2 separate regions of the Homo sapiens genome follow, and region 2 is linked to region 1. Evidence: fine-mapped expression QTL. Tissue or cell type: whole blood. Region 1 holds a variant in brackets; the other region holds the start of a gene. All regions are shown on one strand. Distances are from middle to middle.

Region 1 (8,101 bases):
GCTGGAGTGCAGGGGCCCAATCTCAGCTCACTGCAACCTCGGCCTCCCGGGTTTAAGCAATTCTTCTGCCTCAGCCTCCCAAGTAGCTGGGACTACAGGAGTCCACCACCACACCTGGCTAATTTTTATATTTTTACTAGAGACGGAGCTTCACCATATTGGCCAGGCGGGCCTTGAACTCCTGACATTGTGATCCGCCCGCCTTGGCCTCCCAAAGTGCTGGGATTACAGGCGTGAGCCACCGCACCCGGCCTCTTTTTTTGAGTTTCTTAAGGGGAAGAATGATCTCTTTATAATTCCATTATCTAACAGTTCATGATACATAATAAGCAGTCTACTGTCATGTAATGGAAAAATGAAGACACTCTCAACATCTGGCTGCCTAGAGCTCCTGCTAAATAGACAAGCCTGGGCAATATAGCAAGACCCCATCTCTATGAACAAAACAAAACAAAACACAAGGCATGGTGAGGTACCTGTAGTACCAGCTACTTTGGAGGTTGAGGTGGGAGTATTGCTTGAGCACAGGAGTTCAAGGTTGCAGTGAACCGTGATAGTCCCACTGCACTGCAGCCTGGGCAATAGAGTGAGACCCCACCTCTTAAAAAAAAAAAAATCCTAACTTACCTCAATGTTGAAGATTTCTCATTTCCCAATGGAAAATAACTATTATTCTATGCAGGTCAAGAAGGGAACTGCAAATTAGAAACCAAGTATAGTGTGGGAACAAAAGCTTGCTACGTATATCCTTTTTCTACTTCCCAAGAATTATTAGTAAAGGACACCAAATTTTCGGAGGTGTTTTTTTTTGAGATGGAGTCTCGCTCTGTCGCCAGGCTGGAGTGCAGTGGTGTGATTTTGGCTCACTGCAATCTGGGACTACAGGCGCGTGACCCCATACCCAGCTAATTTTTGTATTTTTAGTAGAGACGGGGTTTCACCATGTTGGCCAAGCTGGTCTCAAATTCCTGACTTCGGGTGATCTGCCCGCCTTGGGCTCCCAAAGTGCTGGGATTACAGGCATAAGCCACCGCCCCTGGCCTTTTTTTTTTTTTTTTTGAGAGGAAGTCTCGCTCTGTCACCCAGACTGGAGTGCAGTGGCATGATCTTGGCTCACTGCAACCTCCACCTCCTGGGTTCAAGCAATTCTCCTGCCTCAGCCTCCTGAATAGCTGGGACTACTAGTGCCCGCCACCAGTAGTGGCGTTTAACCGTGTTGGCCAGGCTGGTCTCAAACTTCTGTCCTCAAGTGATCAGCCCGCCTTGGCCTCCCAAAGTGCTGGGATTACAGGCGTGAGCCACCTCACTAGAGAGGTATTTATTTTGTTTGAGACAGAGTCTCACACTGTCACCTGGGCTTAAGTGCAGTGGCACGATCTCGGCTCACTGCAACCTCCACCTCCGGGGTTCCTCCCAGGTTCACGTGGTTCTCCTGCCTCAGCCTCCCAAGTAGCTGGGATTACAGGCGCCCGCCACCATGCCCAGTTAATTTTTTTTATTTTTAGTAGAGATGGGGTTTCACTGTATTGGCCAGACTGGCCTCAAACTCCTGACCTCATGATCCCTCCACCTTGGCCTCCCAAAGTGCTGGGATTACAGGTGTGAGTCACCGTGCCTTTTTTTTTTTTTTTTTTTTGAGACAGCGTCTGGCTCTGTCGCCCAGGCCCCGGAGTGCAATGGCATGATCTCAGCTCACTGCAACCTCCGCCTCCCGGGTTCGAGCGATTCTCCTGCCTCAGCCTCCCAAAGTGCTGGGATTACAGGCCTGAGCCACAGCGCCCGACCCGGAGAGCTGTTTCTTAATCTGCCTGGAGGAAAATCCCCAGCCCCCAACTTTCCACATACTTCACATAGATAACACTGTAACAACTTTGAAACTAAGAGGGAGAGAATTAAGTTTTCAAATTTGAAATTGAGAAGCCTTTGAAGAGTGGCAGCGTTCTAGAAAGTTCCATGATTGAACAAGTGAAGCAAAAAACTAGGATAGACTCAACTGACCATCTGAACTCCAGGAATTAATAGCCAGTGCTTTGGGCATCTGGCTGGAGCCATGGTACGCACCAGTTGTACAAGTTATTTCATTTTAATTTTGTAAAAAAAAAAAAAAAAATCCTTCGGCTGTCACAACTGTTTTAAATAAAAATTTTGTGAAAAAACAGTATGAAGACGTTGCTCTAGATACAGAACAGGAACTGAGAAAGTCTGGTTGTGTCAAATAAAGCAAAGTGTTGATAATTCTGACTACTGATTAAGGTTACCCAGTTACTATTAAATCCAAGCTTTTAAGGTGCTGAGCAAAGGAACACTGTACCAGAAACGGCTTCACATCATAGCACGTCAATGGGAGCAATAGCACTAACTTAACTCAGGCCAAGACTTGGGCTTGGGTCCTCTGTGGCTGCTACTCTCCTACCACACCTTTGCTTGGGAGTGCACTTACACAGCTTTCTTTGTAATGATACAAAAAGTTGCTGCCTTTTGGTAGTTAGGCTCCAGAAAGGGGCTTCCAAACCAAAATGCACTTTTAAATAGAAATGCAACTGACTGCAGGGAGGCACAGAATCCTGATTGCCTGATTAGCATATGGTGCTCAGGGCTTAAAACCAAGTATGCAAACCTCACATTTGCACATTTCCATGGTGATTCAGCTCACTTTCAAGGTAGCTGAAAATAAAAGCAGGATAGGGGTTTTTGAAATTGACTGGCTTCTTTTTACCTCCTTTTGGAAAGCAGAAGGGGAAAAGCACTGCTGCCAAGAACTTCATCAAAACTCTTTAACTTTAGGTATTATTTAGGTGTTATGATAGAGTAACTGCTGTACAGTACCCTCTTACCTCAAGATCAAGGCTGGGCGCAGTGGCTCAGGTCTGTAATCGCAGCACTTCGGCTGAGGCGAGTGGATCACTGAGGTCAGGACTTCAAGACCAGCCTGACCAACACGGCAAAACCCCGTCTCTACCAAAAATAGAAAAATTAGCCGGGCATGGTGGCGGGCACCTGTAATCCCAGCTACTCGGGAGGCTGAGGTTGCAGTGAGCCGAGATTGCCCCACTGCACTCTAGCCTGGGCAAAAGAGTGAGACTGTGCCTCAAAACAAAACAAAACAAAACATACCAACACCTGGTGATTCAAAAAAATCAAGACAGAGGCTGGGTGCGATGGCTCACGCCTGTAATCCTGGCACTCTGGGAGGCAGAGGTGGGCAGATCACCTGAGGTCGGGAGTTCAAGACCAGCCTGACCAACACGGAGAAACCCCATCTCTACTAAAAATACAAAATTATCTGGGTGTGGTGGCGCATGCCTGTATTCCCAGCTACTCAGGAGGCTGAGGCAGGAGAATCATTTGAACCTGGGAGGCGGAGGTTGCGGTGAGCGGAGATCGTGCCATTGCACTCCAGCCTGGACAACAAGAGCAAAACTCCATCTCAAAAAAAAAATAATAAATAAATAAATCAAGACAGAAATTTTGATTTTAAAGAGGTTTTTGATTTTACTTGGAGGTTTAAGAACTCCTCTAAGTACAGCAGTAATATATTTAATTAAAAACCCAACACCTCTAATTAGAATTGAAGAAAGGAACTGTCCTTTGCTCTAAGGCAAATCAACTTTGTGAGGCTTTTGCTTTGAATTCACCTGTACATATTTGCTCAGCTGACTTCTCTAAAAGGTTTGCCTAAGAGAGGGAAGGAAAAAGAGGCGTCGATGAGAAAAGACCCATATCACACCCTGTATTTGAATAAAAGATTTATTTTTTTTTCTCAGGAAAAACAGAAAGTTAGGGAAACACACTACATTTGACAACCAACATTAATTTGTAGTTGGTCCTAACCCTTCCTGGCACAGCTATCAAAAGTACAGCTGTTTAACCAGAACCAAGGTGTTCACCCCCCACAGAATGTACATGAAACACTAGAGGACTGCATGTTTTTCCCTGAGAGAAGCGTAAGACAAACAGAAGTCAAAAAGTAGTCACTGGGAGCGCCATCCTTCTAAGCAAATCCTCCCTTTCCCTTTTGGAGGATTTGCCCGAACTACGTAGCCAGTCAGCACTTAGACCACCTGCCTCCTCCTCCCCCTATAAACCCACCACTCCCCTCCTCCTTTCCCAAACCACTTGGGGTGTCCTAAGCCCTCACTGCCCCAAGCCCAAAATATCAACTAAGATCCTTGTCTGTATTTCCACAGTCATACCTAATGAATTGGGAAGTGGGGCCCCTAAAAACCAATTCACATCTATGCACTTGTTTCCACTGGATTTGGCAGACAGGCTTTTTTAGTTACCGTAACCAGATCTTAAGATTAATTAAAAACTACATAAAGTGCTTTTAGGTCCTTAGAGATACATGATATAAATAAGCGGCTTATGATCAAGAACGATAAATACATAGGTAAAAATAGCTCTAGCAAAGATGACCTTATGGCTCTGAGATGGGCAGGCAGGGCAGTTCTTCCCCATTACATTCTTAGTCATCTTATTCATACCTATTTTTAAATGGAGTCCACAGACTAAAGGTCATGTTCCGA[G/A]ACTGAAGCTTTCAAATGACCCTAGTTCCAATATAGACACTTTCTTCAGTTTATCAGTAGCTTTTAAACTCTGAGGTTTAACACAGCTCACCTCTTTCTGTAAATTTAAGTGAGCATACTCCTATACAAAGGAAACTTTAGAGAAAGCCTCATAAAATGTTCTTTCCTCTGAAAATTCCTGAGGGGACTTTTGACACATTGCCCCCAAAGACAGGATAAAACAATAGTTGAAAAGATACCAGTCCAAGGAAAAGGGACTTCCTCCCACCTCTCAATGACTGTTAGTGTCACAGCACCCATGGTATTACCACCTGCTAACAGGATCAAGTTCGTGAAAGATGAAAGGTCTGTGGACTCTTGGTGGGGAGGGAGGGTCACTCAGGTTTCCAGCAGGGGTTTCACAGTGCCAAAATCTAAAAGGGCTAGAAAGAGTTCAGGGATGGCAGGGGAAAGCTGTAGGAATTGATATAAATATCTGTAGAGGGAGCAGAACAATCAGCAATTTCAAGGAAGGACAGGAAATAAAAGGTTAAGTCTGATAGAACAAACATCAAGACTGAAATCCAAAGATGCCAATGCAAAAACTTGCAACAAGGTTTGGGAATCATTAATAGAAACAAAACAGTAAGTATTTGCTTTATTGACATACTAGGCTTAGACCTGTGTGTGTAACAAGCAAGCCTAATAATAGCACCATGGTTAGACTAGCCTGCTTTTCCAAGCCATCATTTTATAATTTATTAAGCAAACAAGGGATCAAATGTCTCTCCATCCACCTGATGTGATCTTTTTATATGCACACAGCTAATGAGTTCCATTCAGCTGAAAATCTTTTAGTAAAAGCTTTAAAGATGAGCCCATGAATTCACTTTAAATTTCACCAGTTAAATTAGGTCAAATGGAAGGAACTCAAATGAGTATTGCCCAATCAGAGCCCATTATTTGTAAGTCATCAGTAACCTTAAAACTCCACTTAGACCTAATTATTGAAAACTTGCATATAATGAAGTGAAAGAATTTCCATTCATCAACCTCTCAATCCCAGGTTTTCAAAGAAAAACCTAAGGAATACTTACCAAAATCAGATAAGAAAATTTAAACCTGCATAGTTATCAGATTTGTTCCACTACAACCAGTCTGCATACAGTTACACATCAATTCGTTCTGTATACACTCTAGAACTGAACAGAACAAAGTTTAGCATAGAAAAGCTGTAAGAAACAGGTTCCTAATTACGGAAGTTGCAAAGTTCAAAAGGGTATGAAAAAAACTAATGTAAATTCGATACTTCCTTCGTTTCAAAGAAATAGACTTTCTGTAAAAATATATACAATTTTTACAAATACATTTACAAGCTGTCTTAAGAATTGAGGATATCCATATTCATAACTAATTACTGAGCCTTCCGTCAAGTATTATTGGTGATAAACTAGGCTAATAAAGTAAGAATCATGGAAACCAAGCCAAAGTATAACAGGTATAAAAGTCCTGAACACTTGGACTTTCTAAGAAGTATACTGGGAAAGCTAATTAGAGAGAGGAAAAGCTTCCCTTGTACAGTACTGAGGCTTACAGTCATAGTTCTATTACTTGTAACTTTTACACAGGTCACTGGCATTCTTAGTGCTTCTCTTAACACTACAGTAAATTAATGAATTCGGCGGGTAATCAATTCTATGACTTGCCTGGCTACTGGCCACTTTCCTGTTCTCAACAAGGAAATTAAGTCTTTCCACCCTACCATCTTCACTAAATCTAAAAGTCCTCCTCCATAGCTTCCCAAACAAAGTTTGTTTGTTGCTGAAACTGAACTTTGCTTCTTTCAGACAGTGACTCTTCAATCAATGGGGAGCACTCTTCCCATGTATTTATTCTTGTTAGCCATAATCCTCTTGCCACTTGCTTTTCTGGCTAGGTTGCTAGGGTGCAACTCTAGGAAGTTACAGCTTGGAGTCCAACTGCATAAACTGGTTTTGGTGGTGGTGGTGGTTGGTTAAAAGTCAACTATTGCACTTACAGTAAGGCTATCTTATTAGATATGCCAAACCAGCTCCTACTCCAGCAACACCTGCAAAAGCCAGCAGCACATTCCTGATGCCACCTTCTAGGTCCTCTACATGGAAGAACTCCACAAACCCATCCTAGAAAACAAAAAAGAAAAGCACATTTTCAAGTATGGGTTTCTGCTCTCTTACAACACTACTATCCAGAGAGAAGGTAAATTAAAATATCTAAGGTTTCCCCCTAAAGCAATAGTAAACCAATTATTATTCACCCCGGGGCAAAAAAAGAAAATAAGTTCTTCAGTTTCTTAAGCGGGGACCCATGATAATTAAACTTCATTTTACAGTACTATCTTGGTCTTATTAGGATTTATCCTAACAAAAGGACTTCCAGAGTTCCCATGAGGTAAAAGACGAAAACCCTTATTCTCAAATCTCCACCACCTAATATTTCAGTAACGCCTCAATTGCGCAGATCAGTTTTTCTCAACGTAGTTAAGTACATCCTGCATCAGATCTGGGTTTGTTTAAAACGCAGGCTCCACCCCATATCTTCTCCATTAAAACAGGCACCGCCTTAGGAATTATTTCAGCTATCCTCCCCTGGTGACTTATTTTTTCATGGTTTGAATCCACTGAAGAGTATTCAACTGAATTGGAACAAAAAATTGCCTAGAGAAAACCAAGATTTTTGATACAATTCAAGACCGCCATACCACTATCTCTAAGGATCCACTACTTAAATCAACATCAAATAAACAATGGTCCTTTAGTTAGAGCCTGCAAACAGCCGTGCGTCATAAAAACCTTTAGATATCCCCACCTCTCTAAAAAAAATCCTTCATTCTACTTCCACTCCAAGGCCCCTTTCATCCTTAAGGCAAACTTACCCAGCCTCTTTGTTTAACTAGCCAGTCCCGTTTTGTCCTTACGAGAACGTCTGTGATACTTTCTGCTAATGGTTCGATGCAGCTTTCTTGGTTTATGGTCTTCAAGTGTTTAGCCACAAAGGCACCAAAAGAAATGAGAGTCACAATCCTGCCCCAGTTTGTTACGCCGTCGCTGAAAACATGGATCATCACTCGAGACAACGATTTCACATCGTCTTCGTTTTTGATGTCCAGTTTCCGAAGCATGCCTGAGAAAGAAAAGCATGCAGGTCCTCACGGCCTCCTTTGTCTAAACCGGCGCAAGATTCGCCTGCCCACCCGCGGCGGGAAAATCGCTACTGGGATTTACAGAACTCAGGTTGACCCCACTTGAAATTGACATCCCACCCTTTCCGGTCTTTGAACAAGAGCTGCCATTTCCAAAAGAATCAAGATGGGCGGAAACAATGACTCATGGCCAGAATATTCTGGCTTCAGGAATAGGATGAGACACGTTTCAACACTGACTCGTTTCGGTTTCCAACCCACCCTTGGCGGGTGAGTCCGGGGAGAGATGGAAAAAAGGGAGTGAGGCCTTGGCGATTAATGAACCCCCTTACCTTGGAAGGCCGTCTCGTGGTTGCGCTGCACGCCATCCCCAACCCGTCGTAAGGTCTCCAGCGCCTTCCTGCTGGTGGCCCCA
Region 2 (8,101 bases), 25 kb before region 1:
AGCTCGGGACACAATTCTTACATTTTCTTTTCTTTTCTTTATTTTTTTGAGGCAGAGTCTCGCTCTGTCACCTAAGCTGGAGTGCAGTGGCATGATCTCAGCTCAATGCAACCTCCGCCTGCCAGGTTCAAGCAATTCTCCCTGTCTCAGCCTCCTGAGTAGCTGGGATTACAAACGCCCACCACCACACCCGGCTAATTTTTGTATTTTTAGTAGAGATGGGGTTTCGCCATGTTGGCTAGGCTGGTCTTGAACTCCTGACCTCAGATGATCCGCCCGCCTTGGCCTCCGAAGGTGCTGGGATTGCAGGCATGAGCCACCGCGCCCGGCCCAATTCCTACATTTTGAAAGCATTTTACGTTTTCATATCCATCATCTTCTTAGAGATAACATCTCCTTCAGCTGAGCCCAGTATTAACCTTCGCATGACCCCATTACCTGCCGTGTCTGTGCCTGATCAGACCCAACTCCTTGAGGCCAGAGACTTCTTGCTGCTTCTTCAACACCAAGTGCAAAAGGCGCCCAAAAAATGACAGGTGGGGAACCAAAGACCTCTGATATTTTGTGAGGATGCAGGACAATGTTGTTAGAGCTTCTATTTTTGTGTTTTAGTTTTTCAAGAGAAATTTTAAAATATCCAGGTTTTAAAATACGTATTGACAAGTTATTTAAAAAAAAAAAATGTGCCTTTAGGTTGGGCCCAGTGGCTCACACATGTAATCCCGGCATTTTAGGAGCCCAAGGAAGGAGGATTTCTTGAGCCCAGGAGTTTGAAACTAGCCTGTCTTAAAAACAAAAAACAAACAAACAAAAACCTTTAAAACACTGAGTAGACCCAACAAAATACAACGCGTCAGTAAATAGAAAGTAAAAATATAGGCCGGGAGCAGTGGCTCATGTCTGTAATCCCAGCACTTTGGGAGGCTGAGGCGGACGGATCATGAGGTCAGGAGTTCGAGACCAGCCTGGCCAACATGGTGAAACCCCATCTCTACTAAAGATACAAAAAATTAGCCAGGCGTGGTGGCTCGTGCCTGCAATCCCACCTACTCAGGAGGCTGAGGCAGGAGAATGGCTTGAACCCAGGAGGCAGAGGTTGCAGTGAGCTGAGATGGCGCCATTGCACTCCAGCCTGGGTGACAGGACAAGACTCCTTCTCAAAAAAAAAAAAGTAAAATATAAAAATAGCAGTGACCATTTATTGTCTACTCTATGCCAGCCATTTTACATATTTTATTTATTTATGTGTTTATTTTTTGAGACGAGGTCTCTCTCTGTCGCAGGGGCTGGAGTGCAGTGGCACGATCATAGTTCACTGCAGCCTCAAACTCCTGGGCTCAAGCAATCCTCCCCGCTCAGCCTCCTGAGTAGCTAGGACTACAGGCTTTCACCACCATGCCCAGCTTACATATATTATTTATAATAAATAATAGCCAGGCGCGGTGGCTCACGCCTATAATCCCAGAACTTTGGGAGGCCGAGGCAGGAGGATCACTTGAGGTCGGGAGTTGGAGGCTAGCCTGACTAACATGGAGAAATCCCGTCTCTACTAAAAAATATAAAATAAGCCAGGCATGGTGGCGCATGCCTCTAATCCCAGCTACTTGGGAGGCTGAGGCAGGAGAATCACTTGAACCTGGGAGGCGGAGGTTGCAGTGAGCCGAGATCGCGCCACTGCACTCCAGCCTGGGCAACAAGAGTGAAACTCCATCTCAAAAAAAAAAAGAAAAAAAAAAGATAAAACTAATAGATGGATTGCTCTTGTGGTTAAAAAAATTCACAAAAATAACATTACATAGCTGGGTGCGGTGGCTCACGCCTGTAATCCCAGCACTTTGGGAGGCCGAGGCGGACGGATCACGAGGTCAGGAGATCGAGACCATTCTGGCTAACACGATGAAACCCCGTCTCTACTAAAAATACAAAAAATTAGCCGGGCGTGGTGGCAGACGCCTGTAGTCCCAGCTACTCAGGAGGCTAGGGCAGGAGAATGGCGTGAACCTGGGAGGCGGAGCTTGCAGTGAGCCAAGATAGCACCACTGCACTCCAGCCTGGACGACAGAGTGAGACTCCGTCTCAAAAAAAATAAATAAATAATAATATAATAATAATAAACATAACGCAGAGTAAAAAGCAAAAGCCTTTTTCAGTCCTCCCCCAACCCTGCATCCCTCCCCAGATGTCACCAATACTACTGAGTTTGGGGTGCATTCTTCCATGTATAAATGCATAAAGAGACATATCCAAGCCCATCATATATATTAGATTAGTCCCATTTTGCAGATGAGCAAACTGCACCACACAGGGGTGGAAGTATTCGTCGAAGACCACATAGCTGGCAAGAGCTGGAGCTGAGGTTCAAATCCAGATCAGTCTGACTCAGAAGTCAGCACGCTGTCCTTTCGCTGAGTCCCGAGTGTAAAACCTTACTGAGGAAAAAAACCGAAGCTCATAGAAGTCCCAGCAATCTGAACCACCACTGCCCAACACGGGAGAGGCAGGAGTGACTGAGTTTGCAGGGGAGGCTGCGTGGAGGGGAGAGCCTGGACCCACGCGGATCGGGGGCCGCGGGTACCTCCGTCCAGGGCGCTTCCCTCCCGGACCAGCGGCTCTCCCAGGCCGCCTCGCTCCAGGCGCCCCTGGAGGCTGCCCCGCCTGTGCCGCGCCGCGCCGCGCCGTGTTCGCACCGCTCACCCGAGCGGCTCGGAGGCCCGGGTTGCTTAAGTCCCTAGTCTCAGCCGGGCACGAGGACAGCGCCCGGGAGCGACTGCAGCCTCTGACCCCGGCTGGGCCAGCCCGGGCTGCTTAAGTCCCTAGTCTCGGCCGGGCACGAGGACAGCGCCCGGGAGCGACTGCAGCCTCCGACCCCGGCTGGGCCAGCCCGGGCTTCAGCTCACGCAGCCGTCGGGGGGCGCCCGGCGCGCAGCCCGGGGTGGGTGGTCCTGGCGAGTGGGGCTGCGAGGCAGACCGGCCCCACCCCGGGGCCGCCGAGGGGCGCGGGCTGGGGCGCGTGGCGGGCGGGGCTGGGCGGGGGCGGGCGCGAGGGCGGAGTTGCGGCCGAGGCGGCCGTGACCGGAGCGCGGCTCAGGGGCCCCAGTGGCCGCCGCGGAGCGAGGTTGCCTGGAGAGAGCGCCTGGGCGCAGAAGGGTTAACGGGCCACCGGGGGCTCGCAGAGCAGGTAGAGACCTCCCCGGGACCCCGGCCCCGGCCGCCCCTCTCCCGGGTCCCGTTAGACCGCCCGCCCCGCGCGCCCGCGTCGTCCCCTCTCCCTGCGCTGTGCGGTCGCGACCCCGCCACGACCCCGGACCCAGCTCCGGTGGCCTCGGACAATCTTCCAGCCCCTGGGGTCGAATTCCTGGGGAGGGAGTCTGATCCCGTGGAACTCTGGCCCCATCACCCGGGCGGGGAGTGAACCAAAATTCCTCCTAAGTCACATAGTAAAGTTGGAAAACAGACCCATGACCTCCCCGCGCGGCCGGTGCCTCCTGCCCTCTCTCTAGGAGGGTGCTCTCGGACGGTGTGTCCCCCACTGCACTCCTGAACTTGGAGGACAGGGTCGCCGCGAGGGACGCAGGTGGGTGCCCTTGATCCAGCTCAGCCCGATGGCAGAAGAGGTTGACAAAAAAGAAAGACACCTGTTGGGGTGGCCTGCCAGACCCAGGAGTGGAGGGCTCTGAGGGCCCGGGAATTCGGACTCAGGACAGGGATTCTCCATGGCTAGGCCCAGAAACACAGGGTCCAACCACTCTCCAGCAGGGAGACCTGGGGGTGAAGGGGTGAGCCCTGCGCAGGTCTCTGTTCCTTGGTCTTCACTGGGCAGTGTGGAGAGGTGTGGCCAGGAGGAGCCCGCGTTTGTCCAGACCAGGGTCTACTCTGGCACCAGAGTGACCACCTCTGACCTCTCCTTTCCTCGTCCTGGGCCGGGAACGACACCAAATGAGGGACATGGAAAGGGGTGAGAAGCATAAATGTGCGTGTGTTTCTGCAGAGGAGGGGGCATGGGCCCCTGCCGGGCTGCGCAGGGGAGGGTGGGGTGGGACTTTTCCAGAGAGGGAGCCAGGCCTGGCCCGGGCCCCGGGAGCTCACGTCACCCCCACCCCTCACTTCTCCAGGGAACTGCCAAAGCCAAACCCAGCTCGGGATGGGATTATGTGTACTGGGTAGACCCGTGGAGAGGGGCTGCGAGAAGAGATCTCGGTGGCAGAGAGAAGCAGAGGCAGAGAGGGCATGAAGAGGGGTCGGCATCAGAGAAGGGGCAGGCAGTGACTATCACCCCATTTCTTCTTCCCTCAGCTGGAGTAACAAGAGTCAGGCAGAGCCTGAAGACTTGGGTGGAACATGGGCCCTTCTCTGGAGATCCTGGCCTCCCCCGTTCAGTCAGGGTGGAGTTGCTGACCTTAGTGGCCGGCCCAGCCAGGGGAAGGAGTGGCCATCGGCAACCCCCACCCCAACCCCAATCCCTGAGGCGCCCGCTCTGGCTCAGCCACTCTGACCCCTCCCTCAAATTCCGAACCCTAGGTCTCAGGGAGGGCAGTGGGGCTGAGTGTCTGCCCCCAGGCACATTCCTACCCTTCTCTTGGTCATTTTCTGCCCCAGAGCTGGCCCACCTCAGCAATGCGAGGGCTCCCTGGATTCCTCTCCCGGGTGCCTTTCAGATCCAACAGAAACAGATTTTTTTTTTCCTGGAAAGCAGAACTAAGAGTGGGATGAGGAGCAGGGGTGGGAAGGACTCAAAGTGAGAAGAAGGGGGCAAAGAGAGTCAGGCTTGGTGGCTGGGGTGGCTTCCAAGCCTCACTTCTCCAGTGTTCAAAGCTGAACTTCAGATGGACTTCCCGGCTCTTCAGAATGAGAGGCCTGTGGCTGGGGCATGAGGCAGCCCCGGCTGCACCTCTCCTTCCCGCTTCCCCAGCTGGTAGAGACGCACAGGAAACAAGCCCTCACTGAACCAACTCCAGATGCTGGCACCCAGAGTGGGTGTTACATTGCCGGCTTCTTCTCTAGAGATTAAACCGTCAACCCATTTAGCTTATCCCTTGGCCAAAAAGTGTATGAGATGTGCCTGGATGTTCCCTAAAGAGCTTATCTAAGAAGGGAAGAGAAAGCCGGGAGGCAAGTAGGACAGAGAGATGACTGGGGAAGGTCTTGTGTCTGGAAGACCCAAGGAAGGGGCTTCTGGTGGGTCCTCAGAGAGAGTGTCTGGCGCATCCTCAGTGGAGCCTTCCTCCTCTACTTTCTAGGCACCTCTGGGAGGGCAGGAGTGGGAGCAGATGACAACCATTTTAGAAGGAGCCCTCTGGCTGGGTGCGGTGGCTCACACCTGTCATCCCAGCACTTTGGGAGGCCAAGGCAGGAGAAGCGCTTGAGGCCTGGAGTTCAAGACCAGCCTGTGCAATTTAGCTGGATCCCATCTCCACCAAAAAATACCAAAATTAGCTGGGTGTGGTGGTGCACGCATGTAGTCCCACCTACTCAGGAGGCTGAGGAAGGAGAGCCTGTGAGTTTGAGGCTGCAATGAGCTTTGGTGGCACCACTGCCCTCCAGCCTGGATGACAGAGTGAGATCTCCATCTCAAAAAAAAAAAAAAAGCCTTTTGTGTGTGCCTGAGCCGGCTTAGAAACAGTCCCTAGGTAGGATTTGGGGAGGAGCTAAGAAGCCCCTACAGGGCCCAGAGGTGGGGACTGAGCCTTAGTTGGAGGGCTGAGGTCAGCCCCTGACCATGTAGCCTCTACAGATGGACAAGGCAGTGATCCTCCCTGCTCCCACCCTGAGGATCCTAAAGGGATGGACCAGTTTCACCCCCTCCTCCATATTCTCTGAGCTGTCCTCCCAGCCCCAAGCTCTCTGGACACTGGAGAGGTAACCACCAGGCTTCTGTCCCTGCAGAGAGCACCCTCCACGCCCAGATGCCTGCGTAGTTTTTGTGACCAGTCCGCTCCTGCCTCCCCCTGGGGCAGTAGAGGGGGAGCGATGGAGAACTGGACTGGCAGGTGAGAGAAGGGGCCACGGGTTGGGGGGGAGGAAAAGGGGAGGTGCTGGGATGGCTCTGTGTCTGGAAGTGAGGGAAAGGGGACCACTGGGAGGGGCAGGGGAAGTGATGAGTAACTTCTGCTTTCTGAGAAGTTGGTAGTCAGGATATGGGAGCCGGCTGGGGGCGGAGGGCAGTGTTGCAACACCCCCTCTGGCTCCAGTCTGACGTCCCTCCCCTGGCCTTTGGTTTGCAGGCCCTGGCTGTATCTGCTGCTGCTTCTGTCCCTCCCTCAGCTCTGCTTGGATCAGGAGGTGAGTTCTGGACAAGTGAGCAGCTGCAGCCTGCCTGCCACCCTTTCATCTCCCCCTAGGCTCCCACCCCATCTCTCCAGGCCACGCCTCCATTCCCCACAGCCCACCCACCTCCCCTGCCAACTCCCCAGTTCCTTGCCTCATAACACCAAGAGGCCGAGGTGTAGTTCTCCCTCTGCTGCTGAATGTGACCTTGGACTGGTAGCGACTCCGTGAGCCTCAGTGTTGGTCTACATGGACACTCTGGACAGTTCCCTCTAATCCTTCCAATTCTGTCTGACCTTTTTCTCTATATAGGTGTTGTCCGGACACTCTCTTCAGACACCTACAGAGGAGGGCCAGGGCCCCGAAGGTGTCTGGGGACCTTGGGTCCAGTGGGCCTCTTGCTCCCAGCCCTGCGGGGTGGGGGTGCAGCGCAGGAGCCGGACATGTCAGCTCCCTACAGTGCAGCTCCACCCGAGTCTGCCCCTCCCTCCCCGGCCCCCAAGACATCCAGAAGCCCTCCTCCCCCGGGGCCAGGGTCCCAGACCCCAGACTTCTCCAGAAACCCTCCCCTTGTACAGGACACAGTCTCGGGGAAGGGGTGGCCCACTTCGAGGTCCCGCTTCCCACCTAGGGAGAGAGGAGACCCAGGAGATTCGAGCGGCCAGGAGGTGAGAGGCCTGGGTGGAAGAGGTGGGCCTTGGGCAAGGTGGGGGCTTAGCATGAAGGAAAGGGGAGCACGGGTGGCTTCAGAGGGCTTGTCTTTGGTGCCAGGAAGTAAACTGGGGAAACAGGGTCAGAGGTGGTCAGAGCTGTGCCCCCACATCTGAAACACCTTCTCAGGTCCCGGCTTCGAGACCCCATCAAGCCAGGAATGTTCGGTTATGGGAGAGTGCCCTTTGCATTGCCACTGCACCGGAACCGCAGGCACCCTCGGAGCCCACCCAGATCTGAGCTGTCCCTGATCTCTTCTAGAGGGGAAGAGGCTATTCCGTCCCCTACTCCAAGAGCAGAGCCATTCTCCGCAAACGGCAGCCCCCAAACTGAGCTCCCTCCCACAGAACTGTCTGTCCACACCCCATCCCCCCAAGCAGAACCTCTAAGCCCTGAAACTGCTCAGACAGAGGTGGCCCCCAGAACCAGGCCTGCCCCCCTACGGCATCACCCCAGAGCCCAGGCCTCTGGCACAGAGCCCCCCTCACCCACGCACTCCTTAGGAGAAGGTGGCTTCTTCCGTGCATCCCCTCAGCCACGAAGGCCAAGTTCCCAGGGTTGGGCCAGTCCCCAGGTAGCAGGGAGACGCCCTGATCCTTTTCCTTCGGTCCCTCGGGGCCGAGGCCAGCAGGGCCAAGGGCCTTGGGGAACGGGGGGGACTCCTCACGGGCCCCGCCTGGAGCCTGACCCTCAGCACCCGGGCGCCTGGCTGCCCCTGCTGAGCAACGGCCCCCATGCCAGCTCCCTCTGGAGCCTCTTTGCTCCCAGTAGCCCTATTCCAAGATGTTCTGGGGAGAGTGAACAGCTAAGAGCCTGCAGCCAAGCGGTGAGTCTCCTCGGGCCTCCCCTCCCAACCCCGACCTCCAGTGTGGCTTCCCTGCCCTGAAGCTGGGTCTTCAGCTTCCGCTTGGCACCTGAGGGAGAAGGGCCTTGGCATCTGACCACCTCAGGGCAGGGGTCTTGGAGCTCTTCCGCTGACCTGAGCCTCCCACCTGCTCCCCAGGTTCAGCCCTGCCCCTACCCTCATTTTGCTCCCCAGCTCTGACTCCTTTGTACCCCTCACCGCAGCCCTGCCCCCCTGAGCAGCCAGACCCCCGGGCCCTGCAGTGCGCAGCCTTTAACTCCC

Evidence for each region. PIP is the estimated chance that this variant, and not a neighbour inherited with it, causes the effect.
Region 2: it holds the start of ADAMTSL4, and the variant in region 1 is fine-mapped to the expression of ADAMTSL4 in whole blood (TOPMed, PIP above 0.99).

The regions. Positions count from the first base shown.
Region 1 is chr1:150,570,825-150,578,925 of GRCh38, forward strand. MCL1 (MCL1 apoptosis regulator, BCL2 family member) reads right to left here. Exons shown (of 3, transcript NM_021960.5): 1 at 8,019-8,101; 2 at 7,420-7,667; 3 at 3,734-6,667. The coding sequence ends at 6,551. It overlaps ADAMTSL4-AS1 (ADAMTSL4 antisense RNA 1), which reads right to left and starts at 3,728. Exons shown (of 4, transcript NR_104133.1): 1 at 3,300-3,728; 2 at 2,835-2,997. RefSeq lists enhancers at 7,044-8,101, 7,204-7,922, 7,923-8,101. The variant G/A (reference allele first, on the strand shown) is at 4,527.
Region 2 is chr1:150,546,322-150,554,422 of GRCh38, forward strand. It overlaps ADAMTSL4 (ADAMTS like 4), which reads left to right and starts at 3,087. Exons shown (of 19, transcript NM_019032.6): 1 at 3,087-3,178; 2 at 3,501-3,574; 3 at 5,884-5,987; 4 at 6,222-6,279; 5 at 6,577-6,932; 6 at 7,105-7,801; 7 at 8,044-8,101. The coding sequence starts at 5,968. LOC124904417 reads left to right here and starts at 3,969. Exons shown (of 1, transcript XM_047438226.1): 1 at 3,969-5,029. The coding sequence starts at 3,969. The coding sequence ends at 4,739. It overlaps ADAMTSL4-AS2 (ADAMTSL4 antisense RNA 2), which reads right to left. Exons shown (of 6, transcript NR_187269.1): 6 at 2,243-2,429. MIR4257 (microRNA 4257) reads left to right here and starts at 5,608; the gene lies at 5,608-5,693. RefSeq lists silencers at 2,272-2,566, 2,498-2,647, 2,818-2,957 and enhancers at 4,293-4,982, 5,472-6,341.